6 separate regions of the Homo sapiens genome follow, and regions 2, 3, 4, 5 and 6 are each linked to region 1. The links come from fine-mapping of genetic effects on gene expression. A gene starts in region 1. Each other region holds a variant in brackets. All regions are shown on one strand. Distances are between the middles of the regions. Region 1 holds the start of ESYT2 (extended synaptotagmin 2). Region 2 overlaps ESYT2 (extended synaptotagmin 2). Region 3 overlaps ESYT2 (extended synaptotagmin 2). Region 4 overlaps ESYT2 (extended synaptotagmin 2). Region 5 overlaps ESYT2 (extended synaptotagmin 2). Region 6 overlaps NCAPG2 (non-SMC condensin II complex subunit G2).

The links. PIP is the estimated chance that this variant, and not a neighbour inherited with it, causes the effect.
Region 2: its variant is the best candidate, but not a certain one, in a credible set for the expression of ESYT2 in whole blood (INTERVAL, PIP 0.86).
Region 3: its variant is the best candidate, but not a certain one, in a credible set for the expression of ESYT2 in whole blood (INTERVAL, PIP 0.58).
Region 4: its variant is the best candidate, but not a certain one, in a credible set for the expression of ESYT2 in whole blood (INTERVAL, PIP 0.86).
Region 5: its variant is the best candidate, but not a certain one, in a credible set for the expression of ESYT2 in macrophages (Nedelec 2016, PIP 0.73).
Region 6: its variant is the best candidate, but not a certain one, in a credible set for the expression of ESYT2 in whole blood (TOPMed, PIP 0.62).

Annotation. Positions count from the first base shown.
Region 1 is chr7:158,826,926-158,831,998 of GRCh38, reverse strand. ESYT2 (extended synaptotagmin 2) reads left to right here and starts at 2,490. Exons shown (of 23, transcript NM_001367773.1): 1 at 2,490-2,910. The coding sequence starts at 2,581. RefSeq lists enhancers at 1,527-1,636, 3,647-3,716 and silencers at 1,947-2,676, 2,767-2,866, 2,917-3,106, 3,197-3,246, 3,327-3,526.
Region 2 is chr7:158,795,093-158,800,165 of GRCh38, reverse strand. It overlaps ESYT2 (extended synaptotagmin 2), which reads left to right. Exons shown (of 23, transcript NM_001367773.1): 2 at 1,094-1,135; 3 at 2,090-2,224. Among named protein-coding and RNA genes, the nearest start is that of ESYT2, 32 kb to the left of the region's middle. RefSeq lists an enhancer at 2,787-3,286. The variant T/C (reference allele first, on the strand shown) is at 1,946.
Region 3 is chr7:158,734,829-158,739,901 of GRCh38, reverse strand. ESYT2 (extended synaptotagmin 2) reads left to right here. Exons shown (of 23, transcript NM_001367773.1): 19 at 781-879; 20 at 2,723-2,854; 21 at 4,294-4,399. Among named protein-coding and RNA genes, the nearest start is that of NCAPG2, 33 kb to the right of the region's middle. RefSeq lists an enhancer at 4,856-5,073. The variant T/G (reference allele first, on the strand shown) is at 2,349.
Region 4 is chr7:158,726,012-158,731,084 of GRCh38, reverse strand. It overlaps ESYT2 (extended synaptotagmin 2), which reads left to right. Exons shown (of 23, transcript NM_001367773.1): 23 at 1-88. Among named protein-coding and RNA genes, the nearest start is that of NCAPG2, 24 kb to the right of the region's middle. The variant T/GT (reference allele first, on the strand shown) is at 2,168.
Region 5 is chr7:158,745,385-158,750,457 of GRCh38, reverse strand. ESYT2 (extended synaptotagmin 2) reads left to right here. Exons shown (of 23, transcript NM_001367773.1): 15 at 735-809; 16 at 2,178-2,264. Among named protein-coding and RNA genes, the nearest start is that of NCAPG2, 43 kb to the right of the region's middle. The variant C/T (reference allele first, on the strand shown) is at 3,111.
Region 6 is chr7:158,635,581-158,640,653 of GRCh38, reverse strand. All of the region lies in intron 27 of NCAPG2 (non-SMC condensin II complex subunit G2), which reads left to right. Among named protein-coding and RNA genes, the nearest start is that of MIR5707, 47 kb to the right of the region's middle. The variant G/A (reference allele first, on the strand shown) is at 2,642.

The DNA of each region.
Region 1 (5,073 bases):
GGCTTTCACTGTCCCCAGTATATTTAATTTGCTGGTATAACCTCCAAATTGAAGAGATGCAGAGCACGTGCTCCCACCCTCCATAACGAGACGTATTTAGAGGTGTGGGGGAGGACCCAAAAGCAGGAAGAGTTGAACCTAAGCACAAGATAGCACTTTCCTCTGAAACCAGGAAGGCTGGAACTTCGCAGCTGTGCACCGGAGCACTCGGAATGACACTCCAGAGAAAGCAGCACTTCTCCTTGTCTACAAGAAGGAAAGGATGGAGGGGTCATGAAAGGTCACAGGAGATTGAGGGGTATAATATTAGCAAAAATCTAAGAGCCGAGCTGGACCTGCAGTCAGACCAGACACCTGTAAGACTGAGCTGTGGCAGAGCCTTAGGATCTGCTTTCTGCAGGCAATTAACCACAGGGAGGGGCTGGAAACCCGGGGCTCACACAGAGGGAAGCTGAGGACACTTGGGCTGACTGGTATGCAACATGGAAACTTCTCTTCAATCTAGTTTACATCCTTGGGTCAACCACTGGATGGCACATGGCACAGGATTTTTTTTTTTTTCTTGAGACGTAGTCTTGCTCTGTCGCCCAGGCTGGAGTGCAGTGGTGCGATCTCGACTCACTGCAACCTCCGCCTCCCGGGTTCAAGTAATTCTCCTGCCTCAGCCTCCCGAGTAGCTGGGACTCCAGGTGCGCGCCGCCATGCGCGGCTAATTTTTTGTTATTTTTAGTAGAGACGGGGTTTCACCATGTTGGCCAGGATGGTCTTGATCTCCTGACCTCGTGATCTGCCCTCCTCGGCCTCCCAAAGTGCTGGGATTACAGAATTTTTTACGTGGCTTATGTTTATGCAAGTCTTTGTAGGATGTGATCCTACAATTTTCCAGTAGAGGAAAGCTGCAAAAGAAAGGCTCAGGCTCCTTTCTGTGTCAACAAAGCAATTACTTGCTTTTGTGTTGAGGCTTAGTTTTGAATGAAAGGTGGTGTTAGGAGCATTAACCGGTTGCATATTTACAATCTACATAATATAATTTGTTGCTGCAGCAAACCAGGGACTGTGAAGAGTAAGAAAAGGGAAACCACTTCCATTCCTTGCTTGGGGTTTACTGCCCTTGCCTGGAGTTGAGAGTTTAGACTCTGCAATGTTTTACATATGTGATATAATCTCCACATACATATGCACACAAAATTATGAAGACGCAGGAACGAGGGGAGACAGATTCCTATGTAAAGGTGACCCTGCTTCTTCTGGGCATTTGTTTATTCATTCAGTACCTGCCAGTGCCCTACTCTGTTACAAATTCAGTAAAAATTTCCTTGGAATTCACTGAATATGCTCAAAAACAGTCAAGTAGGATGTTCTTTGCTACTGTTTGGCTTGGAGTTTCCTTGAAAGAAACTACAGAACAAATATAATTAACTCGATTGAATTCACTGGAAAGTAAAGTGATCAATAGTTGTGTTTTTGAGTTAACTGAAAAGTGACCTCAGGAATCACAGGAAAGGCCCAAAATTAGTCGTTTGAAACAGCTATTCATAGTTGGCCACAATATTAACACCTTCGGCGAAGCTGCGTGGTGCCCGGGGTGGAGTTCCCGAGTGTCAACAGCGTCCCTTGGGCGCTTGCGGTGGTCTTTGCCCGGCACTACCAGACCCCTCAGGGAGGACTTTTGGGATTAAAGGCATCTTAAAAGCCAACTGAACTGTGTGAGAGTTGTCAAGGTCACAACGGAGTCGTTTGTGTTTAAAACCCTGACAAGCAGGGTGGGAAGGGCCCCAGAGGCAGCGTTCTCACGCCGGAATGCCCGATAACAAGACCGTCCCGAGAGACTCCGCAAAAGCCACAACCTTGCACACTGGCTAGGCAACCTCACACCGAAAAATACCGGAGGACTCCCGCCAGCGGCGCCCGTCCGACCTCCGGCGGGCGGCGCCCTCTCACCCGTCCTCCTGGCCGCAAAATGACCGCAAACAGGGACGCCGCCCTCTCATCCCACCGCCACCCCGGCTGCGCTCAGCGGCCGCGCACCCCCACGTTTGCCAGCAGCTCCCAGAGGCGGTCAGCCTTTGGGTTTGACGACGGCAACTTCCCGGGCCTCGGCGAGCGCAGCCACGCACCCGGAAGCCGCCTCGGGGCGCGACGCCGAGCCAAAACCGCCCGCGGGCTCCGAGGCCACAGGCAAGTGGGGAGGGTGCCCCGTGGGGCTCGAGGGGACGCAGGCACGCCCAGCCCACGCACCGAGCACTCTCCTTTCCCGTCCCCGGCTCCCGCCAGCCGAGACACAACGCTCGCGTGATGACGTCGTGCGCCTGCCCGGCCCACTCCAGTAGTCTCCGACCCGGCCCACGGCCCGCCCCGCGCGATGACGTCAGTATCCACCCCGCCCGCTCCCGGTGACGTGCCAGCCCCAGGCCCACGCCGCTCCCGCCCCGCGTGATGACGCCACCGTCCCGGGCGGAGGCGGGCGTGCGGCGGAGCCGCGTCCCCTCAGAGGGGCGCTGGCGCGGGGCTGAGCCGCCCGGGATCAGCGCGAGCACCCAGCCCGCCTCGGCCGGGAGGGCAGCGCGGCACTGCGGGGCGATGAGCGGCGCCCGGGGCGAGGGCCCGGAGGCGGGCGCCGGCGGGGCTGGGGGCCGCGCGGCGCCTGAGAACCCCGGGGGCGTGCTGAGCGTGGAGCTGCCCGGGCTGCTGGCGCAGCTGGCGCGGAGCTTCGCGCTGCTGCTGCCCGTGTACGCGCTGGGCTACCTGGGGCTCAGCTTCAGCTGGGTTCTCCTCGCGCTCGCGCTGCTCGCCTGGTGTCGCCGCAGCCGCGGCCTCAAGGCCCTGCGCCTGTGCCGCGCGCTGGCGCTGCTGGAAGACGAGGAGCGCGTCGTGCGCCTGGGGGTGCGCGCCTGCGACCTGCCCGCCTGGGTGAGTGCAGACCCCTGCCCGTCCCGACCCCTGACCACCAGTCCCGATCTCCCCTCGTCCAGGCAGGCACTCCCCTCCCCGCGACCTGCCGCCTGGGTGAGTGCAGACCCCAGCCCTGCCCCGGCTCCCGCCTTCGTAGTCCCCCACCCACCCCGGTCCAGGCAGGCGCTTCCCTTCCGCCTGGGCGAGTGCAGACCCCAGCCCCGGCCCCCGGGCCGGTTCCTGCGACCTGCCAACCTAGGTGAGTGCAGACCCCGCCCCGCCCCCCGGCCCCGACTCCCAGCCTGCTGGCGACCTGCCCGCTAGGGCGAGTGCAGACCCCAGCCCCGCCCCGGCCTCCGGCCCACTCCCTGCGAACCTGTCCGCCTGGGGCCGCCGCCCGCTGCTCGCCGCTCCCGCCCTAGTCCTGAGTGCTCCGTGCCCTCCCTCCGTCCAAGTCGGGCGTCCCCTTCTCCGCTTCCCCGCCCGCCCAGGCTCCGGGTCCGGGGCGCGTCTGCCCTCGTGAAGCCTCCCCTCGCCGTCCCGCGCGGCTTTCTCGGAGACCCCTCTTCACAAAGCCCGCTTCCCTCCCCCGGCCTGCAGACCCCGAGCGCCAGCGGCAGGTACCGGGCTTGGCGCCCCCTCTTCGGCCGCGGCCCTGCCCGGAGCGCGCGCTTCCTCCTGGTGCCGCCCGCGGGGTCTCCTTAGGGGCCTGAGCGGCCGGTTCTGCTCTCAGAGCGCCCAGCGCGATTCTCGTGCGCATTCCCAAAGCCCTGCCGGCCTGGAAATGCTCCGGGTGGCTTCAGCTTTTCCTTCTCTCTGTTTTTTAAAAAACGTAATGACAGCTGGTGGGGGAGAAGTTAACTTTTTCTTCTACCGGGAGAAGACGCACTCGTGTCTTGGTTGTTTCTGACGCATTTCAAGGGCAGTAAGTGTCTCTCGAAAGATGTGGAGATATTAGATAATTGAAAGATTGTTTCAGTTTTTTTGCAAGTATAATTGTGAGACTGAGCATTTTTATATGGGATCGACCTGAATCCAGTGTGAATGTGTGTGTGTGTGGCAGGAAGTTTTGGAAGAGTTGCAGCAATAACAAGAGTCATGGTATTATTTTATTTTTAACCCGGCAGTTCTCTACCTCGTATATTTATGGACTATAGACACGAAGAGTTGGCTTCAAATCTTTTTCTTGTCATTCCCTAATTCTTTCTTAGCCATGACTTGGCTTCACAGTTTCACACTGCAAGAAAGGATTTTAATGATTCTTCCATTAGGCTTAATATAAACTTTGGGGTGAAGGTGACCAGCAGTGGGTTTCGGAAGGGTCATTTTCTCTTAGAGGAGAAAAGTCCCTGTTTCCAGTCATGAGACACCTGAGAAGTAAGGCATGACACAGATGGCAAACAAGAATTAGAAAGGAGGCGTGCCCAAGACAAGAAGAAGGTAGTAGATGCTACTTTGTGACGTCATATTGCAACTGGAGTAAGAATATAATGTAAGGAGCTTGGGAATGTACAGTTCTGCCGATGCGTGGTGAGCATGAGGGAGTCATATTTGGAGAACCAAGGTAACTGGCATGGTGCAGCTTTTAGCTAGCGGCGGGAAAAACCGAGGGGTGTGTAGAAAAAGGAAGTTAAGAGGAACCGAGGTGGGGAAAACTAAGAACAGAGGAGGTGCACTTTGGAAATGGAAAAGGACTTTAAAGTGACGTTTTGTGTCTATATTACACTAAGATGCATAATACTAAAAAGTAGCTAAAAACAGAGTCCATTAGCATCCATTGCTATGTTATATTGATAACATAGCAATGTTATCAGTGCTGAAATTTGCAGGAAGTGATGATGCTGACTTTCATAGATACTTGGTTATTGGCTAATATCAAATTTGCTTGTTAAAAATCTTTGTGAAACACAGATTTTCTTTTTCTTTTCTTTTTTTTTTTTTTTTGAGACAGAGCCTCTCCCTGTTGCCCAGGCTGGAGTGCAATGGCGTGATCTCGGCTCACTACAACCTCCGCCTCCAGGGTTCAAAAGATTCTCCTGCCTCAGCCTCCCGAGTAGCTGGGATTACAGGCGTGCACCATCACGCCCAGCTAATCTTTGTATTTTTAGTAGAAACAGGGTTTCACCATGTTGGCCAGGCTGGTCTCAAACTCCTGACCTTGTGTTCCGCCTGCCTTGGCCT
Region 2 (5,073 bases), 32 kb after region 1:
GAGGTAGGAGAATCACTTGAACCCGGGAGGCGGAGGTTGCAGTGAGCCGAGATCGCGCCACTGCACTCCAGCCTGGTGACAGTGAGACTCTGTCTCAAAAAAAAAAAAAAATTAAGAGGCCACATAGTCTTAAAAATATCATACGCATATGCAAATGTGTATAGAAACATGTCTAATGTAAGTTATACATGCTTATAAACGCATAGAAAAGAGGTTTGCAAGAATATGTTGGCCAGGCTGGTCTTGAACTGCTGGCTTTAAGTAATCCTCAGCCTCCCAAAGTGTTGGGGTTACAGGCATGAGCCACCATGCCTGGCCCTAAATAGGTTTCTTTTCTCCTGTACAAACCCTTCTCCAGTATCCAGGCCCTACCTGGAGAATTGTAAGAGGGATCCCTATCTGGGTGAAGGTGGGAGATGATGGTATGGAGAGGAGCCATGTAAGGAAAGGTGTCTCTTAGCTGGTTTGGGCCAAAAGAGAAAAGCAAAAGGGAAGAGTGAATTTTATTTTAGTTTATATTTTGTTACTTTATTTTATGGAGTCTCATTATGTTGTCCAGACTAGGGTGCAGCACTAATCACAGGCATGGTTGTAGCACATTGCAGACAAGCTCCTGGGCTCAAGGGATCCTCCTACCTCAGCCTCCTGAGTACCTGGGACTTGCAGGTTTGGGCCACCACGGCTGGCCTGGGAAGGGTAGGGGCTCTGAGCCTAGATTGCCAGGACATGATGATAATACTACTGACAAATTAGAAACATGTTTTTTTAAAAAGGTAGAGGTCAGTTTTGTATAATTTATGATGTTTCAGATTCCAGTGAATTTCCTCTGGACAGTGGGGTGCAGAGAAGACTCTGATGGCATTTTCCACACACAACTTTTTTGCTCATTGTGTTCTCAGAACGTAAAGAGCTGGGGTGCCATGCATTTCACTTTCCCTCCTTGGAGACCAGTTTCCCAAGCTTTAGAGCAGAGTGTTTTAAAGAAGCATCTTGTAAACATAGGACGTATGATGAGAATATGAAATTGCCTGCTTGACATTTTATTTACAGTTGTTGGGAGTTAATAAGTCATATGTGTGTATTTTCCTCCTAGGTTCATTTTCCAGACACTGAAAGAGCAGAATGGCTAAATAAGGTAAGATTAGAGTATACCAACTACCATCCATCAGTGGAATTGGAGGATGAGATACCATCTTTCCATATTTGGGGATTTGCATGTTGGTAATATTTGAGCTCGTTTGGACTTTAGTGGGTTGGCTTCTGGTCCCCAAAGACCTCAGTCACAACAAATGCATTTCTTTTCTTTCCAGAGAGTGAGAACTGTCTCTTTGACTTGAGAAAAGTATAGGCATGTGCATATTTGTGTCTCTGGCCATGTGTCTTCTTTTCTGAACAGCCAGGGCTCAAGTCTATTTTATAACAATCATAAGTTTTAAAAAACATGACAAAGAAAGAAATAACTTACAAGAAATTCAATAATCAATAACAGTCTTTTTTTTTTTTTTTTTTTTTTTTTTTTGAGACGGAGCTTCACTCTTGTTGCCCAGGCTGGAGTGCAATGGCATGATCTCGGTTCACCACAACCTCCACCTCTTGGGTTCAAGTGATTCTCCTGCCTCAGCCTCCCGAGTAGCTGGGATTACAGGCACGCACCACCACGCCTGGCTAATTTTGTATTTTTAGTAGAGATGGAGTTTCTCCATGTTGGTCAGGCTGGTCTCAAACTCCCGACCTCAGATGATCCACCCGCTTCAGCCTCCCAAATGCTGGGATTACAATTGAAGAACTATATAAATATTAATGTTGTTTTCAGCACCAAGTTGAAACCACAGGACTTCTAGAAATCTTTAAATGTGCTGACATATTTAACCAGAATAACTAGTTCCTGCAACATATTGGTTAATCAGTAGTTGGTTTTTCTAATAACTTTTTAGAATTTAGATCA[T/C]GTTGATTTTGCATAACAACAAGATCCTCCCGCCCTTTATTTTCAAAACCAGGTTTGGTCTGTTGCGAGGGTTTCTCACGAGCACTCGTGTGTGTCATGCATTATATAGCATTTTGTTTAAACTGAGTTCTTTTTCCTTTCCAGACTGTAAAACACATGTGGCCTTTCATTTGCCAATTTATAGAGAAGTTGTTTCGAGAAACTATAGAACCAGCCGTGCGGGGAGCAAACACCCACCTTAGCACCTTTAGTTTCACGAAGGTCGACGTGGGCCAGCAGGTCAGTGTTCTCTTAAGTATCCTCACGTGCACACAGTCAGATTGCTGTGAAAACACAAAACAACACATTTTCTTTTTTTTTTTTTCTTGAGACGGAGTCTCGCTCTGTTGCCCAGGCTGGAGTGCAGTGGCACTATCTTGGCTCACTGCAAACTCTGCCTCCCAGGTTCACACTATTCTCCTGCCTCAGCCTCCCGAGTAGCTGGGACTACAGGCGCCCTCCACCACGCCCGGCTAATTTTTTGTATTTTTAGTAGAGACGGGGTTTCACCATGTTACCAGGATGGTCTCGATCTCCTGACCTCATGATCTGCCTGCTTCAGCCTCCCAAAGTGCTGGGACTACAGGTGTGAGCCACCGCGCCTGGCCGAAAAACACATTTTCTTTTAAATTTTTTTTTTTCAGACGGGGCCTCACTATGTTGCCCTCCCTGGCCTCAGACTCCTAGGCTCAAGTGATCTTCCTGCCTCAGCCTCCCAGCTAGCTGGGTATATGTTTTTTAAACAACTTCAGCTGGAAGCAGTGGCTCATGCTTGTGACCCCAGCACTTTGGGAGGCCTGAGCTTAAGAGTTTGAGACCAGCCTGGGCAACAAAGTGGGACTCCGTCTCTACAAAAAAATTTAAAAGTTAGCTGGGTGTGGTGGTGCACGTATATGGTCAGAACTACATAGAAGGCTGAGGCAGGAGGATCACTTGAGCCCCAGGAGGTGGAGAGTGCAGTGAGCCATGATCACACTACGGCATTCCAGCCTGAGTGACAGAGCGAGACCCTATTTCAAAAAACAGACAGCTTCAAATTATGTTCTGAAGAAAATTGTTCACCAAGGTCTACCGGGTGCGTTTCTCACTCAGGCTCTGCCTCCAGCCGTGGTGCCTTTTCCCGTCTCTGTCGGGAGGCTGTCCTGCTGCCCTCTCGCCTGCAGTGCCCTTTCCCGTCTGTCGGGAGGCTGTCCTGCTGCCCTCTCGCCTGTGGTGCCCCTTCCTGTCTCTGTCACTCAGGCTCTGCCTCCAGCCGTGGTGCCTTTTCCCGTCTCTGTCGGGAGGCCTTCCGGCTGCCCACTCGCCTGCAGTGCCCTTTCCTGTCTGTTGGGAGGCTGTCTTGTTGCCCTCTCGCCTGCAGTGCCCCTTCCTGTCTGTCACTCAGGCTCTGCCTCCCGCCGCGGTGCCTTTTCCCGTCTCTCCTGGGAGACCGTCCTGCTTCCCTCTCGCCCGCACTGCCCCTTCCCATCTGCCGGGAGGCCATCCTGCTGCCTTCTTGTCCGCGGTGCCGTCTTGGCCATGTCAGCCTCCGTCTCATGGCTTCTCTTTAACACTGACTTTTTCTCCACCACGTGTCTTTCTGCTCCACGTTCTTCTGTCAGCACGCCCTTTTCGGAAGCACTAGTTTTAAGTAGTCTTTCCTGTGAGCGAGTTTGATATGTGAATTCATGCTAAATGTGCAGTAATTGACAAGTTTAAGGTGTTTACCCCTCTCGGGATGTTAAAAAACAAAACTACTAATGACTCTAATGCTGGTATGTTAGGTACAACATTCATTACGTAAGTGGAAGAAAAGATGGATTTTGTTAATGGAGTCACATTATATAAAAAGGAAAGCTGATACTTCCTAATACCACCTTTCATAAAAGCCTCAAGAGTACATTTAGTTGATCATGGGAAGTTTTTCTTTTTCTATTTTTAAATCAGTGTTTAAGTAGCAACAGTCCAAGGTAACATTGTTTTATATGCCTAAAGACTCAGAACGTGATAGTTCTTGTAAACACACACACAGTCTGCACACGTTGTTGCACACACAGCAGAGTCAGCAAACAGACATCCCCGTGCAGTGCGGTTCAGGGTTGTGATAGATGTGGCTGTGGGAGGGTCTGGCATGGTCACTGTGTATTTGCCACCTGTTAGTGGGCACCAGTGTACACCCCATGATCTCCAGGCTGCTGGCTACCTTTCTCCATCAGAGCTGACTTTCTGTGTGCAGAGAATGCTCTGTCTCAGAAGCAGTTACTCCAGACCCCGTGCCTCCTGTGCAGCCTTACGTGTGACACCTGCCTGTATGTGCTGCTGCTTTTCCTGTGACATGCCTGAGGTGTGGCCATCCTGTGCAAGAGTCCATGTCTCTACACAGGACGCCCGTAGGACGAGCCCATGTCTCTACACGGGACGCCTGTAGGACACTTTCAGTGTTGACTTTACCTTCAACACCTAAAATGGTAACCACAGATGGGAAAAAACACAATTACAAGTTAAAGTGCCATGTGAGTGCAGGTTAAAGTCCCAGTGACAAGTTAAATGCTGTAAAGCAGGGGCTGCATGCTCTGTCTGTACATGGCCGCAGGGGCTGCATGCTCTGTCTGTACGTGGCCGCAGGGGCTGCATTGTCCTGCTGTCTCTCCCTCCCTTCTTCTACAGCCCTTTAGCCAGGTGAAAACCATACTAGCTCCAGGGCTGTAGAGTCAGGCCAAAGGCACATTTAGCCTGTTATGCCCTAAGTTACAGCATGTTCGTGTTTGTGGATATTTAAAATTCCATCTCAGCTGGGTTTATTTTAGGAATAATTTAATTATGTTTGAGTTCCATCACACACACTTTAAGTTTGATACCAGCTGAATAAGGAAATCCTTGGAGAATAGCAAGAGTATTAAGAGGAGTGCTGATTCAATAAAGATAGCTTTGGCATTTTCATCTACTGTACCAATGTCTTACAAGTGTCAAACCCAGGCTTTCTGATGAAGGGATGGATAGAATGGCATGTGGAGTCCTGTGCAGGGTCCTTGGCCAGACTGTGTGCTGACCAAGACTCCCGGCAGCTGGGCAATGTTGCCTTCTGGTGTTTGTCCTTCATTAGGTAATGC
Region 3 (5,073 bases), 92 kb after region 1:
TGTAGCTTGGTATCTTACTGCCGCAAGGAATCTGTTCCTTCAGTCTTAACGATCTCTGCTGCAGCATTAATGCCAGTCGGTTGTTGCATCTGAACTGCGAAGGGGGGGGTATAAATAACCTCCCGTCCTGTTGTGGTCAGGAACTCAGTGTTTAAGTTTCTCTGGGGTCCCCTGGGTCCACTCACATGGGAGTGGGGTGGGGGCTTAGGATTTTACTTTTAGTTTTCAGGACCCTAACTAAAAAACTGTCAGTTGGCTGGACGCGATGGCTCACGCCTGTAATCCCAGCACTTTGGGAGGCCGAGGCAGGTGGATCACCTGAGGTCAGGAATTTGAGACCAGCCTGGCCAACATGGTGAAACCCCATCTCTACTAAAAATACAAAAAATTAGCTGGGCGTGGTGGCGGGCGCCTGTAATCCCAGCTACTCAGGAGGCTGAGGCAGGAGAATCGCTTGAACCCAGGAGGCGGAGGTTACAGTGAGCCAAGATTGCGCCATTGCACTCCAGCCTAGGCAACAAGAGTGAAACTCCGTCTCAAAAAACAAAAACAAAAGAAATAATGTCAGTTTTGAATAATTAATTTATATTGAACCCTCAAGTAAAATATTCATCTGTTTGACTTGTACCCAGAAGTTTCAAATTATGTTTAAGTTCATGGGTAATTTGACTTCTTTTTGTCTAAATGAATAGAAATTATTTTATCGTGTACAGTGGACCAATGAATCACAACGTTCTCCAGTCTCAGGCAAGCTGGTGACTTTCTGCTCTTTTCCCACAGCGGGACGACCCTGGGACAGTCTCCACTGGGGCAGATCCAGCTGACCATCCGGCACAGCTCGCAGAGAAACAAGCTTATCGTGGTCGTGCATGCCTGCAGGTGGGGGCTGGGGTCCCACGCGCCCGCTGCTGTGCTGCTGAGTGTGGATGCTGGATAGGATGATGTAGACACCGCCTTTAGGATTTCCAAACATCCATTTATGTTTCATTTAGAAAGGACAAAGCAATTAAACCTCTAGAGACGGTGCTCGTAAAGGGTGTCACCACTGCGTATGTCACATGACAACGTTTTGGTCACCGAAGTACAACGGTCCCCTAAGATCATACTGTATTTTTACTGTACCTTTTATGTGTTTAAATACACAAATATGGCTTGGCATGGTGGCTCACGCCTGTAATCCCAGCACTTTGGGAGGCTGAGGTGGGCAGATCACCTGAGGTCTGGAGTTCGAGACCAGCCTGACCAAAATGGAGAAACCCTGTCTCTACTAAAAATACAAACTAGCCACGTGTGGTGGTGCATGCCTGTAATCCCAGCTACTAGGGAGGCTGATGCAGGAGAATCACTTGAACCCAGGAGGCAGAGGTTGCTGTGAGCCAAGATCGTGCCATTGCACTCCAGCCTGGGCAACAAGAGCGAAACTTTGTCTCAAAAAGAAAAAAAAATACACAAATATGTCACAATTGCCTACAGTATTCAGCACAGTAGCATACTGTACAAATGTGTAGCCTAGAGCAGGAAGAGTGTGTGTGTGTGTGTGTGTGTGTGTGTGTGTGTCTGTGTGTGTGTGTGTATTTTTTTTTTTTTTTGGAGACAGAGTTTTACTTTGTCCCCCAGGCTGGAGTGCAGTGGCACAATCTCATCTTACTGCAACTTCCGCTTCTTGGGTTCAAGCAATTCTCCTGCCTCAGCCACCCGAGTAGGTGGGATTACAGGCGTGCACTACCTCGTCCGACTAACTTGTATTTTTAGTAGACACGGGGTTTCACCATGTTGGCCAGGCCTCCTGAGTAGCTGGGACTATAGGTGGAAGCCACCAGGCCTGGCTAATTTTTAATTTTTTTATGGAGACGCTGGTCTCTAATTCCTGGCCTCCCAAAGCACTGGGATTATAGACTTGAGCCACCATGACTGGCCTAATCAGGAAGAATTTATTTTAACTTGTTTGTTATATTAATAAGTATAAAGTCAGGTGACTGTTGCATTAATTGCATTTGTTAACAATGATACTGTGGGCTTACGAACTATTTTCCTTTTATGCAATTTTCTCTGTCCTATTAGTGGTTTAAAATATGATATAAAAATTTGGTGCTTATAAATAGCTGTTGGAAACATAGGAAAATAAAATTAGCACCATTTAGAAAGATGATAAAAATGTAGAGTTCAGTACATCACTCTTGAGAAGTTCATATATTCTTGCCACTTAGATAATGATCGTGGGGGATACTGTTGTAGAGGAGTCTAGCAAAACAATCCCTCCTAGACTTTGTGGTCAGTCAGCAAGCGAAGAATGTGGGGGCCTGTGCAGCTGGGCACCTGACCGCGTTTGCTGCAAAGGAGCAGCCCCC[T/G]TCTGGAGGGGTAGGCACTGTGGGGTGGGGGCCTGGCTTTCTTGGCTGTGAGAGAGAAAATGGCAGAAGCATTATGGAAAGACAACCGTCACTCTGTTACAAGCAGAGACCAAGGACTTGGAACGTCCTCCAAACTCTGGGCTTGAGAAATGAAGGCCGAAGTCGCTGCTGAGAAAGCCACTAAGAAAGGAGTTTGGGAGATGCCACCAGGCAGCCGTCGGGGGAGGCAAAAGCGCCTCACGCATTCTGTTCCTTGTTGCTTCTCGGTTTGTAGATAAACATGAAATCAAAGCTTGATAAAGCATATCTGAATGTGCTGCTCATTCTCTTTTTCTCGGTCCTAATACCTCGTCTTATCTGGTTTGTGTTGTAAGAAACCTCATTGCCTTCTCTGAAGACGGCTCTGACCCCTATGTCCGCATGTATTTATTACCAGACAAGAGGCGGTCAGGAAGGAGGAAAACACACGTGTCAAAGAAAACATTAAATCCAGTGTTTGATCAAAGGTACGGTATTTTATCCAGCTGAGGATAGACTGCCCGGTTGAAGTGACGGATTAAGAAGGCCCTAAATGGTGCCTTTGAGTGGCCAAAGCACATAAATCAGCTGTTGAGAAGTTCAATCAGAAACCAACTTTTAGCAAACATACTTCTCAAAACAAATAAGCATTTTGACCTTCATGTAGAAGCTCTAAATACAGTAAATTCAAGTTACAACCCTGTGGACATGTAGACTAGTGATTAAATAAAGATCAGGTTACTGATGGCCCTGAAGAACTCATTTTTGGGGGTTATATCTGTTGACACTTAACTATGTTATCAATTAAAACTGAGAATTTAAGGATACATATATTTTTAATTTTATTTTTAAATAACAGTAAGCCCCAAACATCTTACCGTATGACATATTGGAAAAACAACTGTATTTCCAAAAATAAAAAACATAATGAAAAGAATGGTATTATTGTTCAGCATTTTTGCTCATCTCTTTAGTGGTCTGGCTCAAGAGGGGCTGGAGCCTGCTTCTGTGGTCAGGGTGATTTGGTGACCTCCTAGGAGGGTCTCAGAGACACCCCCAGGGGTCATTGGCCCCCACTTTTAAAGAGCTGCTAATCTGTACCATTTTGGTATCTTAGGTGATTGTCCCCTAGTGCTTCAAAACCCACCCTTGTTTTGGGAAATGATAATAATACAGTTGTATGGTGTCGCTATCTGCTAATTCAGTTTACGTTTCATCTTTAAACATCCTCCTCATTCATTGTACTTTCATACAAGTAGCTTTATGTAAAACACCCATCAGAAACTGGCAGGCGTGCATCAGCCCGATGAGGTTGTGCAGGGTGCTCCTACCCATCCGAGGCATTTAAGCGTCTGGAGACTCCACTTGCCCCCCAGCACGGTGGCCTGGGGCAGGCACCCGCAGCCCGGAGGAGAGACGCCCTGCAGGCACTTTAGTGCAGCGTCTGGCTGAGCATCGGGAGTGCTTTGGAGGCCTTCTCCCTCCTGCGAAGCTGCAAGCACATACTTTTTTTTATTGGAGATGGTGGGAATAGGGCCTGAAGACTAAACCAGACTGAGTGGAAAGCCTGAGTGAGTGGGCTGCTCTGGAATTGCTGTTTTGTCAACATTATCCCACATTTTAATCCCCTGGAAGAGTCAGACATGTTGAGAGACGCTCCTCACCCACCCGTGAGTGAGCCAGGGACCTTGGGACCCAGACATCTATGGGATGCCAGAGCCTTCTTTTATGTGTGGGAAATGAAAAAAATGTTGGTTTTTGAGTCTTCCTGAAATGCCAGATTAAAACATTAGGTAGAAGAACTCAGTTTTATAATAAAAAACAAACATGACATTTGGAATGATCTCATGAGCAGAAATGCCATTTTTAGTTATAAGAAAATACAGCAGAATGATGGATAAAGTAAGGCTCTCGTTTCCTATTTCAGCTTTGATTTCAGTGTTTCGTTACCAGAAGTGCAGAGGAGAACGCTCGACGTTGCCGTGAAGAACAGTGGCGGCTTCCTGTCCAAAGACAAAGGGCTCCTTGGCAAAGTAAGTGCCAAACGAATCCTCAACCAGTTCCTGCAGTTTGTAAAATTGAACATTTACCTGCAGTGCAGTGTTTAGACCATGTCTGTGTAAGTGGAAGGGGCGAACTTACGAGGTCGATGCTTGTTTATAAATCATGGGCTATAAAGACAGTCAAAACATCTGTGCTTTCTGAAGATATTTTAAGTTAAGTCTTCACATTTTTGTTCAAGTATCACATTGAAGGAAAATAATCTCTTACAATTCCATCTCCTCAACTGATGGCTCTGCTCTTTTTCTAAAATTCTTTGGCTTTATTTATGTGAATTTCTTCTACTCTTTGTCCGTATTTCACATTTCACTTTGGCATGTGAGTGTATGTTATTTAGGAATGAGAGTAGGTTCAGTTGGGGAGGAAGAGATTTGAGTCACGGGCATCATTTCGTCAGCTGTGCTGCCATGGAGGGCACATGGGCCAACCCTTCTGTGAGTCATCTCCGCTGATATTCCGTCATAGCTGAATTTTAAGACTGCTGGTTGCATGAAGGATTTCTTAGATGTATTCAGCGATGTAGCTTACAGGTGCTCAGGGGGGTAGAAAAGATTGAAAAAGTAAGAGCCTTCAGAAAAGGGAGAGTCCATATTCCTAGATGAAGACAGAAGATTAGAGAGATGAGAAGAAGTGGTAAAAGATCTAA
Region 4 (5,073 bases), 100 kb after region 1:
GGTTAAAAAGTAGAGAACCTCCTTTCTGTTCAACTAATTTCACGTGACAGTGCATGTATTTATTCAATAAAACCTTTATGTTAGCTCAGTCGTGATTTGTTTTTCTCTGTCTTTTGAAGGGAGGTGTTCAGTGTGCAGTCAGATAATTTGAAAGGAGACGTCGTGCACTGTTTCATTTGCTGTCTGCACTCGCGTTTTCCCAGCAGCTACGTCAGAGCAGCTGACATCCTTCCTGTTGTTCCCAGCTCAGTTTGACTCTCCTCTGCCCAGCACATTACACTCCACATGTCAAAAACAGCTCTTCTAAAGGATAATCATACGTAGAAAAAATAAACTTTAAATGTGTTTTTAACTAGGGCTCTGAGAAGTGCAGCGGGGACTGCCGAGACACCTGAACATTGGAACACTGAGGGTGATACTGGAGTATCCCTTCCTGTTGCGTTCATTACTGGTGGTCTGGATCGACTTGAGTGGAGCCCTTGCGCTTTTCCTCGTAGCCGCTCGGCATTTCACACCAGGCACTTCCTTTCTCCTTGACTGTGGGCCTTTGACACCGGGCACTTCCTTTCTCCTTGACTGTGGGCCATCCTTCTTGGCCTCTGTAGCGCCTTCCTCTGTATTTTCCTTGCACATTTTTGGCCATTTTCCAACACTGTCTTCACCTTCAACCAGACTCAATAATTGGCATAATGTGGGTTTTGGTTCTGATCACTTTTTATTTTTATGTGGTGTTCTTAATACCATCAATACCCTGGTTTCCAGATGTATGTCACTGATACAGATGTTGTCTGAGCTCAGGACCAGTTCATCCCACTGCATCCCCGTCCTCTGTGTCACATGGACACCTCAAGGCACACCCTTTGTCCATCTGTCTGTCCATCATCCGTCTTGGTGCTGGAGCTGAGACCTGGACAGCACCAGCCACCTCCCACTGCCTCAGCCCATGTGCAGACACCAAGTCCTTGAGCTCTAACTGGAGAATGTAGCCACCTCAACTCTGTCCCCTCAGTCCAAGCCACCGTCCCTCTCCATTTCTCAATCTTTCTCCCCTGCCTGCTCCATTTTCCATACAACAGGAGAATCTTTCAGACACAGATCACTCCCACTCAGCTGTGTTCCACTGTTCAAGAGCAAGAGCATTTCCTGACTTCTGCAGCTGAGTGTTTCTTCTTCCTCTGGGACCCTCACCCACTGTACCTCAATCAATGCCTCTCAGTTCCACAGACGGCCCCTACACATTCCCACTCAACACCCCCAGGCATGCTCCTCCCCGCAAGCACCTCCACACCTGCTCGGAACTCCCCAACATCTCCACACTGCTCCCCCGAGCACCTCCACACTTGCTCCTCCCCCCCAGCACCTCCACACTTGCTCCTCCCCCCCCAGCACCTCCACACTTGCTCCTCCCCCCCAGCACCTCCACACTTGCCCCTCTCCCCAGCACCTCCATACCTGCTCCAACGCCCCCACCTCCACACTTGCTCCTCCCCGCCAGCACATCCTCACTTGCCCCTCTTCCACAGCACCTCCACACCTGCTCCAACCCTCCCGCCTCCACGCTTGCTCCTCCCCCACTATCTCCACACCTGCTCCTCCCCCCAGCACCTCCACGCTTGCTCCTCCCCCACTATCTCCACACCTGCTCCTCCCCCCAGCACCTCCACATTTGCTCCAGTCCCAACCTCCACCTTGCTCCTCCCCCCAGCACCTCCACGCTTGCGCCAAGCCCCCCACCTCCACGCTTGCACATCCACACTTGCTTCTCCCAACACCTCCACGCTTGCTCTTCCCCCACTATCTCCACACCTGCTCCTCCCCCCAGCACCTCCACATTTGCTCCTCCCCCCCCACCTCCACGCTTGCTCTTCCCCCGCAGCACATCCACATTTGCTCCAATCCCCCCACCTCCACACTTGCTCCAACCTCCCCACCTCCATGCTTGCTCCTCCCCCCAGCACCTCCACGTCTGCCCCTCCCCTCCAGCACATCCACACCTGCTCCTGCCCCACCCACCTCCACACTTGCTCCTCTCCTCTCCTCTCCCCAGCACCTCCACGCGGGCTCTTACCATGACTGGCCCAGCTCACATCCACTCCCCGTAACTTCTCAGTTGAAAGCTGATCTCGGTGTCCTGTGAGTTTTCTTAGCATCATGTGTGTGTATGTGT[T/GT]TTTTTTTTTTTTTTTTTTTGAGACAGGTTCTTACTCTGTTGCCCAGGCTGGAGTGCAGTAGGGGGATCAAGGGATCCCCCCCACCTCAGCCTCCCAAAGTATTGGGATTACAGGCCTACGCCACCATCCCGGCCTGTGTTACTTTGATTCACCAAATTTAACGTAATTACAATTTAGTTTTATTTAAAACTTTCCTACATGGACTGTAAACTTTCAAGGGCAGAGATTATGTGAGTTTTATTTAAAACTCACTGGTCGCCTATCACTGTTCCAGACACATGGTAAACCAATTATCTGTTGAATAAATGTATAAAGTTTGGCAGACGGCTCACACCTGTAATCCCAGCACTTTGGGAGGCCAAAGCAGGTGGTTCACTTGAGCTCAGGAGTTCAAGAGCAGCCTGGGCAACATGGCAAAACACTGTCTCTACCAAAAATACAAAAATTAGCCAGGCGTGGTGGCGCATGCCTATGGTCCCAGCCACTCGGGAGGCTGAGCAGAAGAAGGATCACTGGAGCCAGGACGTCGAGGATGCAGTGAGCCATGATTGCGTTGCCGCACTCCAGGCTGGGTGAGACAGCAAGACCCTGTCTCAAGAAATAAATACGTTTGGCAGACCAAAATATAATTCATCTCGTCTAACAAGTTTCCATTCAAAAAAAGATATATACCTACTAACGGTTGTTAGTGACGACTAAGGAGAAGATACTGCTAAGCGTGATGGATACTATTGAGAGAAAAAGCCAAGGGCCTCCTCATCTGAGAAACAGTTGAGACATGAAAGTTGGAAACACCCAGGAAGTCTGCCTTTAACTATTTACTGTTATTCTCAACTTCCTGGGCAATATAATACAAAGAAAAAAGATTATCTGGAAATTTTTACAAAGAGATAGTCATTTTCAGATACAAGATTGCCTACCTGGAAATCCCAATAATAATACTCTGCAAAGAAGGCCAGGCACGGTGGCTCACACCTGTAAGCCCAACGCTTCGGGAGGCCAGGCATGGCAGCTCACACCTGTAAGCCCAACGCTTTGGGTGGCCGAAGCAGGAGGATCAGTGGAGCCCAGGAGTTTGAAACCAGCCTGGGCAACAGAGTGAGACCTCATCTCTATAAAAATAAAAAAACTAGCTGGGCATGGTGGGTGCACACTTACAGTTCTAGCTACTTGGGAGGCTGAGGTGGGAGGATCTCTTGAGCCCAGGAGGTTAGGAGGCTGCAGTGAGCTATGATTGTGCCACTGCACTTCAGTGTGGGCGACAGAGTAAGACCCTGTCTCAAAAAAAATATCTGGGCCGGGCGTGGTGGCTCACACCTGTAATCCCAACACTTTGGGAGGCCGAGGTGGGCAGATCACGAGGTCAGGAGATTGAGACCATCCTGGCTAACGTGGTGAAACCCCGTCTCTACTAAAAATAAAAAAAATCGGCCAGGTGTGGGGGCACACGCCTGTAGTCCCAGCTACTCGGGAGGGCGAGACAGGAGAATCACTTGAACCCAGGAGGCGGAGCTTGCAGTGAGCCAAGATCGCGCCACTGCACTCCAGCTTGGGCGACAGAGCGAGACTCGGTCTCAAAAATAAATAAATAAATAAAAATCTGGAGGCCGGGCGTGGTGGCTCACACCTGTAATCCTAGTACTTTGGGAGGCCAAGGCAGGTGGATCACTTAAGGTCAGCAGTTTGAAACCACCTTGGCCATCATGGTGAAACCCCATCTCCACTAAAAATACAAAAAATTAGCTGGGCATAGTGGTGCGCACCTGTAATCCCAGCTACTCAGAAGGCTGAGGCAGGAGAATCACTTGAACTGGGGGAGGCAGAGACTGCAGTGAGACGAGATCATGCCACTGCACTCCAGCCTGGGCGACAGAGTGAGACTCCATCACCAAAAAAAAAAAAAAAATCTGGAAAATATTTGGATGTAGAAATGTCTGTGTCGTATATGGTAATGCCAATAGCTATTGGAAAATATGGAAAAAGTCATACAGCAGCAGCCTTAGAAGTGCAACAGCACAGATGACCAGCAGCCTTGCTGCCTCTGGAGGGGAAAGAAGGAGCTTATTGCTCTCCAAAAGTTCCATCCCCAGGGAATTGTCACTATTTCAACTCTCAGGCTCCCAGGAAAACTCCATCTCCAGGTTTGTTGGTCCAGAAGAATCGGTGGCGGTTGTTTAACATTGCAGCTGCCTGAGGCAGTGGTAGCAGTTGGGACAAACAAGAGGCCAACCAAACACTTTGAAAGGAGAACCTAGGGGATGAGACTGTCCACAGAGGGCTTTGTAAAACTCTGGCATTGCTGGGGTGCTAGACACATGCACATGCCGGGCTGTGCACATCCCCAGGAAAGACCTGCAAGAGTTCTCATTTCTGGCTGTGAGGTGCCTGCTGGAAGACTGAAGGCACCCAGCACATGCACAGGGCCCCTTGGCAGCAGGTGGGAGACCAACTGGTCTGAAGTATTCAAAGAAGTCCTTTCCAATCCTTAGCTGGCACGTGAGCTAACCCAGCAGAGGCTTCAGAGGCAGCATGTGACAACACAGCTTCTAGAGAGTCCAAGTATGTTACTAAACACAAAGAAACAACAGTGACAACCATCATCAACAACAAAGCCAGGAGTGGAAGAGGGATCTTGTCTACAGAGTTGCCACACTATATTATCTTTATTTTTTTTTATTTTTTTTTTAGATGAGTCTTGCACTGTTGCCAGGCTGGAGTGCAGTGGTGCCATCTTGGCTCACCACAACCTCCACCTCCTGGGTTCAAGCAATTCTTCTACCTCAGCCTCCCGAGTAGCTGGGACTACAGGCGCCCACCACCATGCCCGGCTAATTTTTGTATTTTTAGTAGAGACGGGGTTTCACCATGTTGGCCAGGCTGGAGTATATTATCTTAAATGTCCAGA
Region 5 (5,073 bases), 82 kb after region 1:
TAACACAGATATTTAACTGCATCTTCTTGTGGGGCTAAGTTATAAATAAACCTCATGTCACACGTATCTGCTGCTTTACTATTTTCTCCTATCAACTATCTGTGCTAGTGTGTACTTCTTACCGTTTTTCCTAGTCCTGAATTTTTTCTTCATATTTATATCTGCTTAATTTAATATGATTCTAAACTGATGATTATTCTTCCAGTCAAAATTATTTAGCAGCTGGTAAGCAAGATTTGATATGTGAAAGCTTAAAAATGCTCAAACAGAAGACGCTAAGTTGAGAACATAAAACCGTGTATCTGACACTCTGTACTATTTTTATTCCCGCCAGAGAAATATTCTGAATTTTACGTTCTTTTACATTTGTCTTTTAATGATTTTTGGTTTTCATTAATTGCACTTTATTCATTTTCGTTATCCTTGTAAATAAAAGAACTTTCGAAAAGTGTGATTAACATTAAGAATTTTTAGAAGATTCAGTTTTCCAAAGTAGTTGGCTTTAAAAATACCAGACTCTAACCTTTAAAATTTGTGTGCAAATGAAAGTTTTGTAGTTATGGTTTGGGGTGTGTGTAGCTTATGTTTTCCCATTAAATTGTTCCCAGATATTCCCTTAAATATCAGAGATAAATAAAAATGACTACTAATATAAGCCAGTAATTTCATTTTTAGTTAAGACCCATTTAAAATGTGTTTATTTATTTTGTCTGTTTTCTGTTTGTTTTGGGTAGTCAGGGAAGAAAATAAGCAGCAACCCAAATCCTGTTGTCCAGATGTCAGTTGGGCACAAGGCCCAGGAGAGCAAGGTAAGGTGCTCGCCCTGGACTCAGCCTTGGTGCCTGTCGTGCGGGCGCTGTCCGTGTTGCCGTCTCACCTGGGGATGCCGGGTTGCAAATACATTCAGTTGTGTGATAGCGTGGGCATCGAGACCAGGGCTTTTCAGATCTATTTTTTCTTAGATCAGTCATTTGATATAGATAACCAGCTACTTGAAATACCAAGAAATATACTGTTCATTTTTTAAAATGACTTCAGTGGCTAGGTGTGGTGGCTCCTACCTGTAATCCCCACAATTTGGGAGGCCGAGGCAGGGAGATCCCTTGAGGTCAGGAGTTCGAGACCAGCCTGGCCAATACGGTGAAACCTCATCTCTACTAAAAATACAAAACTTAGTCGGGCATGGTGCCGGGTGCGGTGCCGGGTGCCTGTAATCCCAGCTACTCGGGAGGCTGAGGCAGGAGAATCGCTTGAACCCGGGAGGCAGAGGTTGCAGTGAGCCGAGATTGCACTACTGCACTTCAGCCTGGGTGACAGAGCAAGACTCTGTCTCAAAAAACAAAACAAAAATAACATTAGAAAGTAATAGATGAATATGTTTTTGCTTGATTTTATGAGTAGACACATGGGAACAATTCCTAAGTTTGTCTTGAGCACTCTATAAATAGTTTAAAAGAAAACCAACAGTGCTTAAAATTCAACCAATACAGTTAGAATTACGACTTGAAAAGAGGGTATGGCTATTACATATTGCTGTAATATGTTCTACTTTCCTTACAGGAGAAAAAAAATTAGCTGGGCATGGTGGCACGTGCCTGTAATCCCAGCTACTTGGGAGGCTGCAGCAGGGGAATTGCTTGAACCCGGAAGGTGGAGGTTGCAGTGAGCTGAGATTGCGCCACTGCACTCCAGCCTGGCGACAGAGCAAGACTCTGTCCCCCCTACCAAAAAAAAATAAAAAATAAAAAAAAAAAGAAAGAAATTGCCCGAAGTTACAGGTCATCACTCACTGAATTGTGAACAGTTTAAGAGACGTGCCCAAGTGCTCACCCTCCTCAGTTCGGAGGAGCTATTACGTTGGTGCAAAAGTCATTACAGAACCGAGGCCAGGCCACGCACACGAAGCCTTTATCTGTGGGCGCACAGGTTGGGGCCTCATGACAAACTCTAAAGGCTTTAGACCGTCTCGTTATCTTTTCAACACATCCACCATCAATACATAATAGTGCATACCTGCAAATACATGTCTTGGAATTTAATTAAGGTCAACCTAAGCTTCTAGTTTTTTGTTTTATTTATTTTCTTTTTATTTTTCATTCTAAGCTTCTAAACACATAAAATGAGTAGCCCTTTTCCACAGAAAATATCAGAGCTAATAATTTGGATATTTCTTCTAGATTCGATACAAAACCAATGAACCTGTGTGGGAGGAAAACTTCACTTTCTTCATTCACAATCCCAAGCGCCAGGACCTTGAAGTTGAGGTATTTTATTTGCATTTTTTAACCAATTTATTGACAAATAATTGACTTTTTAAAGTATACAATTTGCTGAGTTGTGACCCGTGTATACACCTGGGGATCCATCGCCAGAATCAGGACAATTGGTAGATCTCTCTGTAACCCGGGCCTCCCCTAGCCCCAGGCAAACACAGACCTGCCTTTGGTCACTGTAGATTACTGTTCACATTTTCCAGGATTTTATACAAATAGAATTATGCGGTATGTCCTCTAGTTGTCTATATTCTCTGGTGATAATTATTCTGAGGTTTACCTGTGTTGTTGCAGATACCCACAGTTTGTCTTTTTTTATTGTTGAGTAGTAGTTATGGATATACCACAATTTGCTCATCCATTTACCTGTGAGTAAGACATTGATAAAAGATTGGGTTCTTTCCGGTTTAGACCTATTACATATAAATCTGCTGTGAATATCACATACAAGACTGTGTGTACATATGCCTTCATTCTGTTGGGTAAAATGCCCAGGAGCAGGTTGCCAGGTTCATGTTTAGCTTCTTAATAAACTGCCAAATTGTTTTCCAAAGAGATTGTGCCGTGTCACATTCCCACCGAAGTGCATGTGAGTCGAGCGGGCCCCACATCTCGCCAGTGCTGTGGTGTTAGTGGGTAGATAGGAGTATTACCGGGTGGTTTCAGCGTCATTACTAATGACGTTGAGCACCTTTTTATGCTTTTTTACGGTCTTTGTATCTTCTATGGTGAAATGTCTATTCAGTTTTTTTGCCTGTCTTTTTTATTTGGTTATTTGTCTTCTTAATACTGAGTTTGTAAGACGTTTGGGGTTTTTTTTTTAATGTTTCATTCTTT[C/T]TGAGATGAAGTCTCACTCTGTCATGGAGGCTGGAGTGCAGTGGTGCGATCTCAGTCACTGCAGCCTCCACCTCCTGGGTTCAAGTGATTCTCTTGCCTCAGCCTCCTGAGAGCTGGGATTACAGGTGCGCGCCACCACACCTGGCTGATTTCTTGTATTTTTAGTGGAGACGGGGTTTCACCATGTTGGCCAGGCTTGGCCTTGAACTCCTGACCTCAGCTGATCCGCCCACTGTGGCCTCCCAACGTGCTGGGATTACAGGCGTGAGCCAACGCACCCCGCCTCTTTGTTTTTGAGAACAGAGTTTCACTCTGTTACCCAGGCTGGAGTGCAGTGGTGTAATCACAGATCACTGCAGCCTCCAACTCCTGGGTTCAAGTGATTCTCTTGCCTCAGCCTCCGGAGTAGCTGGGACTACAGGCAGACACCACCATGCCTGGCTAATTTTTTTATTTTTTGTAGAGAATTATTTTATTTTTTGTAGGGTCTCACAGTGTTGCCCAGACTGGTCGCAGACTCCTGGGCTCGAGCAGCGATGTTCCCACTTCTGCTTCCCCAAGTGCTGGGATTGCAGTTGTGAGCCACGGTGCCCAGCCTCTTTTTCTTAATATGGCTGTGTAGTTGTTCAGCATTTGTGCAGTTGTTCAGTCTTTGTTGAAAAGATTATTATTTGCCCTAATTTATTAGCTTAGCAACTTTCCAGAAATTCAGTTGCCCATATGTATAGGTCTGTTTCTGGAATTCCTTCTGTTCCATTGTTCTATATGTCTGTCTTTATGCCAGTATCACACTGTCTTTATTATTGGTGCTTTATTAATCTTTTTTTTTTTTTTTCTTGAGGCAGGGTCTCACTTTGTCACTCAGGCTGGAGTGCAGTGGTGCAGTCATGGCTCACTGCAGCCTTGACCTCTTAGGCTCAAGCAATCCTCCCGCCTCAGCCTCCCAAGTGGCTGGGACTAGAGGTGCACACCACCACACCCAGCTAATTTTTGTGTTTTGGGTATGTGTGTATGTGTGCCTCAGCCTCCCAAGTGGCTGGGACTACATGTGCATGCCACCATACCCAGCTAATTTTTGTGTGTTGGAGGGGCGTGTGTGTGTGTGTGTGTGTGTGTGTCTATTTATGTATGTAAAGATGCGGTTTCACCACATTGCCCAGGCTGGTCTCGAACTCCTGAGCTCAAGCCATCTATCCACCTTGGCCTCTCAAAGTGCTGGGATTACAGACGTGAGCCATCATGCCTGGCCTGTCTTCTCTCTTCTTCTTCCTAATAAGTCTTACAAGATGTTTATTGATTTTATTTTCTTAACCAATTTTTTGTTTAATTGTCATTATTGCTTTTCTTTTACTATTTCATTGATTTCTACTATGATCATTATTATTTCAGTCCCACTTACTTTGGGTCTTTGCTTCTCTTTTTCTAGTTTCTTAAAGAAGAAGCTTGAGACATTTCTGTTTTTATAATGTAGGCATTTACTCCAATAAATTTCACTTTAAATTCTGTAGCTACATCTCACAAATTTTGACTTGTCGTTGATGTCTCCTTTTGATTATTATTATTTCCTTAATTTCCCTTTCAGTTTTTTCCTTTGACCTGTGTATGGGTTATTTTGGTCTGTTATTTAGTTTCCATATGTTTGGGGATTTTTTTTTAATCTTTCTATTATTGATTCCAATTTCATTCCATAGTGGTCAGAGTACATACTTTGTATGACATGAGCCCTTTTATGTTTGAGACCGGCTTTATGGCCCAGAGCACTGCCTGTCCTGGGACACACTCCACGTGCACCTGTAGGCTGTGTGCCTTTCTGGTGTTGGCGAGTGTCTCATGAATGTCAGTAGGTCAGGGTGGTTGGTGGCATTGCCATTGCTCAGGCCCTCTGGGGCCTTACTAGTTCTCAGACTACTTATATCAGGTATGAAGAGCATGGCGTTTAAATCTCTGAATTTATGTTTTTTTC
Region 6 (5,073 bases), 190 kb after region 1:
TGTCAGAGAGTCTTTTACTTCTACTTTATTTCTTTGCAGGGATAATGTTATGTAGTTTATAATTCTAGTTGATGAATTTTTTTCTCTCTGTACTTTATTTAATTTATTATTATTATTTTTTGAGACAGAGTCTTGCTCTGTTGCCTAGGGTGGAACGCAGTGGTGTGATCTCAGTTCACTGCAACCTCTGCCTCCTAAGTTCAAACGATTCTTGTACCTCAGCCTGCTGAGTAGCTGGTATACAGGCACATCGCCGCCACACCCAGCTCATTTTTGTATTAGTGGAGACAGGGCTTCACCATGTTGCCCAGGCTGGTCTCGAATTCTTGATCTCAAGTGATCTACTCGCCTCAGCTTCTCAAATTGCTGGGATTACTCCCCGTGCCCGGCCACTCTCTGTACTTTAAACATTTCGCTATACTCTCTTCTTGGCTCGTGTAGTATCTGAGAAATAGGATATAATTCTTTTTTGCTCCTCAGTAGATAAGGTGTATTTTTCCCTATCTGGTTTCTTTCAATACTTTTTCTTTGTTTGATTTTTCTGTAGGTTGAATATGATATGCCTAGGTGTAGTTTTCTTTTCTTTTTTTTTTTTTTTTTTGGCATTTATTCTATTCAGTATTCTATGAGCTTCCTGGATAAATTCTCAGTTATTATTGTCTGAATATTTCTTCTGTTCCTTTCTCTCTTCTGAAATTCTTATTATACATGTTAACACCTTTTACAGTTGTCTCACAGGTCTTGGATATTTCATTCTATCAAAACAGCTGCATTTTTGAATTCTGTTTGCTAATATTTTATTTGAGAATGTTTGCATTAGGTTTGAAATAAGATTAAATGGTTGTTGGTTGTTTTGTTTTGTAGTGTTTTGTTTTTGTTTTTTCAGTAGGACCTCTACCAGTTTTGCTCTCAGCATTAGTTGGTAACTTCTCCCTTTTCAGTGTTGTGGAGCAGTTTAAATCACATCTGATGCTGTGGAACAACATACCCCCAGAAATCTGGGATGACTTTTCCCTGTTTCTTCTATGTTAGTAGTTGGGTCTGATTTCCTATTACTGCCTGAATAAATTTTGGTAATTTACAATTTCTTGCATTGGTCTAGATTTTTAAATTTATTAACAAAATGGCTTGTGGTTTTTGTTTATTGATTTTAATAGAATAGAATTTACTCATTGAGATATACATATGGAAAAGAATGTAAATAATATGTGTACCACTGAATTAATTGTTATAAAATGCACTCACAAGCCAGGTGCGGTGGCTTACAGCTGTAATCCCAGCACTTTGGGAGGCCAAGGCAGGTGAATTGCTTGAGTCTAGGAGTTCGCAACCAGCCTGGGCAATGTGGCAAAACCCTGTCTCTACAAAAAATATAGAAATTAGTTGGATATTGTGGCACTCACCTGTGGTCCCAGCTACCCAAGAGGCTGAGGTGGGAGGATCACTTGAGCCCAGGAGGTTGATGCTGCAGTGAGCCGAGATCACGTCACTGCATTCCAGCCTGGGTGACAGAGTGAGACCCTGTCTTAAAAAAAAAAAAATTCAGTCACCACCTAAATCGAGGAATACACCTCCTGAACATGGTCCCTCTCTCCCTGTTTGAAGGTATCAGCCCACCCCAATACCTCAGTATAATTTTGGGCATTGTCCGGATGAAGAGCAAAGTGTGTGTGGTTTTATACTTGATATGAGGTTTATGTTTACTGTGGCTTTTAACACCATTTCTTTTTTGTCTTTTTTGATTGTACGTCTGAGACTGGCTCTGTGGCTCACACACAGCATTTGTGAGTGCTTGTGCATAGGAGTGTGTGTTTTAGAGAGGTGGAGTGCCACCTGATCAGTTCACGTTCGTTAATTGTGTTACCTCAACTTTTCTATGTTTTTACTGATTTTTTGTTACTTATTCTACAGAGACTTGTGTTAAATTTCTCATTATGCTTGTGAATTTGTCCAAGTATCATATTTAGGACTGCTTTTGCATTATATATTTTATGGCCCTGTTATTAGGTGCATATAAGTTTAGAACTGCTGTATGTTCTTGATTAATTGACCCTTTTATTTTAATAAAGGGTCTCTCTTTACTCCACTTTGTCAGGTACTGAGATAACAATGTTGGCTGGGCATGGTGGCTCGCGTCTGTAATCCCAACACTATGGGAGGCTAAGGTGGGTGGATTGCTTGAGCTCAGGGGTTCAAGACCAGTTTGAGCAACACAGCGAGACCTCATCTCTACAAAAAATACAAATATTAGACAGGTGTGGTAGCATGTGCCTATAGTCCCAGCTACATGGACAGCTGAGGTGGGAGGATTGCTTGAGGTGGAGGTTGCAGTGGGTTGAGATTGCGCCACCGCACTCCAGTCTTGGCAACAGAGCAAGACTTGTCTCAAAAGCAAACAAACAAAAAACAATGTTTTTCTGTGTGTTTGTCAGGTTCCAGGAGAAGACCAAAACCACGCAGTGATTCGGATAGGGAAAGCTCAGTGTCAGGGATTTTTTTGTTTGTTTTTGAGACAAGAGTCTCCCTCTGTTATGCAGGCTGTAGTGCAGTGGTGCGATCTTGGCTCACTGCAACCTTTGCCTCCCAGGTTCAAGTAATTCTTGTGCATCAGCCTCCCGAGTAGCTGGGATTACAGGCATGC[G/A]CCACCATGCCCGGCTAATTTTTGTATTTTTAGTAGAGACGGAGTTTCACCATGTTGGCCAGGCTGGTCTTGAACTCCTGGCCTCAAGTGATCCGCCCGCCTCGGCCTCCCAAAGTGCTGGGATTACAGGGGTGAGCCACCGTGCCCAGCCAAGTGTCAGGGATTTTTATAGGGAGTTGGCACGATGGGTTATTGGCTAGTGAGAGTTAAAGAGAACTCTAGAGAATACAGGACTAGCAGATGAAGAGAACACCTCCAACCCTAGGTGAGCGCCGCCAAGGAAGGAGCCCCCACCCGGACAGGGAGACCTGGCTTCCTACGTGGAAGAAATTGTTAGCGGCCTTCTGTGGGACCTGAGGACGTCCACTCACCTGGGTGGGTGGTGGGCCGGGGGGATGTGGAGCCATCGCAGGGGAGGTGCTGGGGAGCTGCTGGAGCCGGAGCTGGAAAGCCTACTCTCTTGAGTCCCACAGGCTCCTGTGTGTGGCTCGGATGGGGTGGGGGCTTGTGGGGTAGTTGTCTGGTGTGCTGCTTGTGCTGTCAGAGTCTGCTGGAGAAAGGGGGGCCTTACGGAAACCTGGAGAAAGTCCCCTCCTTCCCCAGTGACCTTCCAGCACCCCACGGTGATGGGACGTTGAACTGGGCACTAAAGCAGGTGGGTGGGTTTGGGCTCCTAGCGACTGAGTGAATGAAATGCATTCAATTATGTACTTTATTCTAAAAATGATTGAGTGTCCACTATGCTAGTTTTAATCAGGTTAGACTTTGCAACTTTATATTTTAAGAAGAAACCCTCTCAGCACTTTGGGAGGCCAAGGCAGGTGGATCACGAGGTCAGGAGATCGAGACCATCCTGGCTAACACGGTGAAACCCCGTCTCTACTAAAAATATAAAAAATTAGCCGGGCATGGTGGCGGGCGCCTGTAGTCCCAGCTGCTCGGGAGGCTGAGGCAGGAGAATGGCATGAACCCGGGAGGCGGAACTTGCAGTGAGCCAAGATCACACCACTGCATTCCAGCCTGGGTGACAGAGCAGGGCTCCGTCTCAAAAAAAAAAGAAGAAGAAGAAGAGGAAACCCAATAGACTATTGGCCTTAGGAGCTTGTTTTTAGGGCAGTGGTCTGATTTGGGGATGACAGAGGAGCACTTGTCCATTTCAGAAAATAAGTGGCAATGATGTAAATGGTCCATCAGGCACAAATATTAAACAAGATGACCAGAATTACCAACTGTAAGAATGTTAAATTGTTTTCACAGGATGTAGTAACAACCTCAAAAGTCTAAGCATTTTTCTTTATTAGAAATAATGTTGGCCGGGCACAGTGGCTTATGCCTGTAATCCCAGCACTTTGGGAGGCTGAGGCAGGCAGATCACCTGAGGTCGGGAGTTCAAGTCCAGCCTGACCAACATGGAGAAACCCCGTCTCTACTAAAAGTACAAAAATTAGCTGGGTATGGTGGCACATGCCTGTAATCTCAGCTACTTGGGAGGCTGAGGCAGGAGAATCACTTGAACCCGGAAGGCAGAGGTTGCGGTGAGCCCAGATCGAGCCATTGCACTCCAGCCTGGGCATTAAGAGTGAAACTCCATCTCAAAAAAAAAAAAAAAAGAAAAAAAGAAATAATGTTGCCAAGGAAGGCTTATTTGGATATAGAATAGTGTATACTATTCTGAAGATGAAAGGGAAGAGGAACATTGGTTTCTCACTAGGAATGCCTTCCATTTCCACTTATACTTAGTTTCAGGCTAACTACTTGAATTATGTTAGTTACATTGAGAGAAGAAAAGACCTGAGAAATTCAGAACTTACAATGTGGAAAAGGACATGAACAGAACACTGGGGATGGAGCGTTTTGTTTCTCCATTATTCACCTGCATGCCATCCCCTCTACTAAGATGATACACAGATGAAAAAAAGAGCTCCTCCCTTTAAGAAGGAAACATCCTAGAAAATAAATAGGTCAGGACTGTGAAATATTGGCTTCTTACTTAAATATGCAAGAAGCAAACTATAGAAAAACCAGTGTCTAAAAAAATCAATCTGACAAATTGATGAAACAAGAAAAATCAATCTAACGGAAGATAAACAATTAAGATTTAAGACTGTATTTTAAAATATTATTGATTTAACGTTGGACTAGAGACATTAAAGCAAGTAAACATCTTTAAGAATCTGGGAACCCCTTGCTCCAATTAATATTTTAGGCAGTGGAGCTTGATTTAAAAGTGCACGTTTTCTTAACAACTAATCTAGTTTTCAGGGCTAGTATTCTGTTGACTGGTCTGTCTTTTGGGTGCTAAATAAAAATCGGCATCTCATTGCATTTTAATTGCCTCATCCGATATAGCATATTGTAAACTGGACATTTTCTGAGGAGAAACAACATGCATTTGCCCATGCACTGGTGCATTTAAATGTCAAGTATGTTAA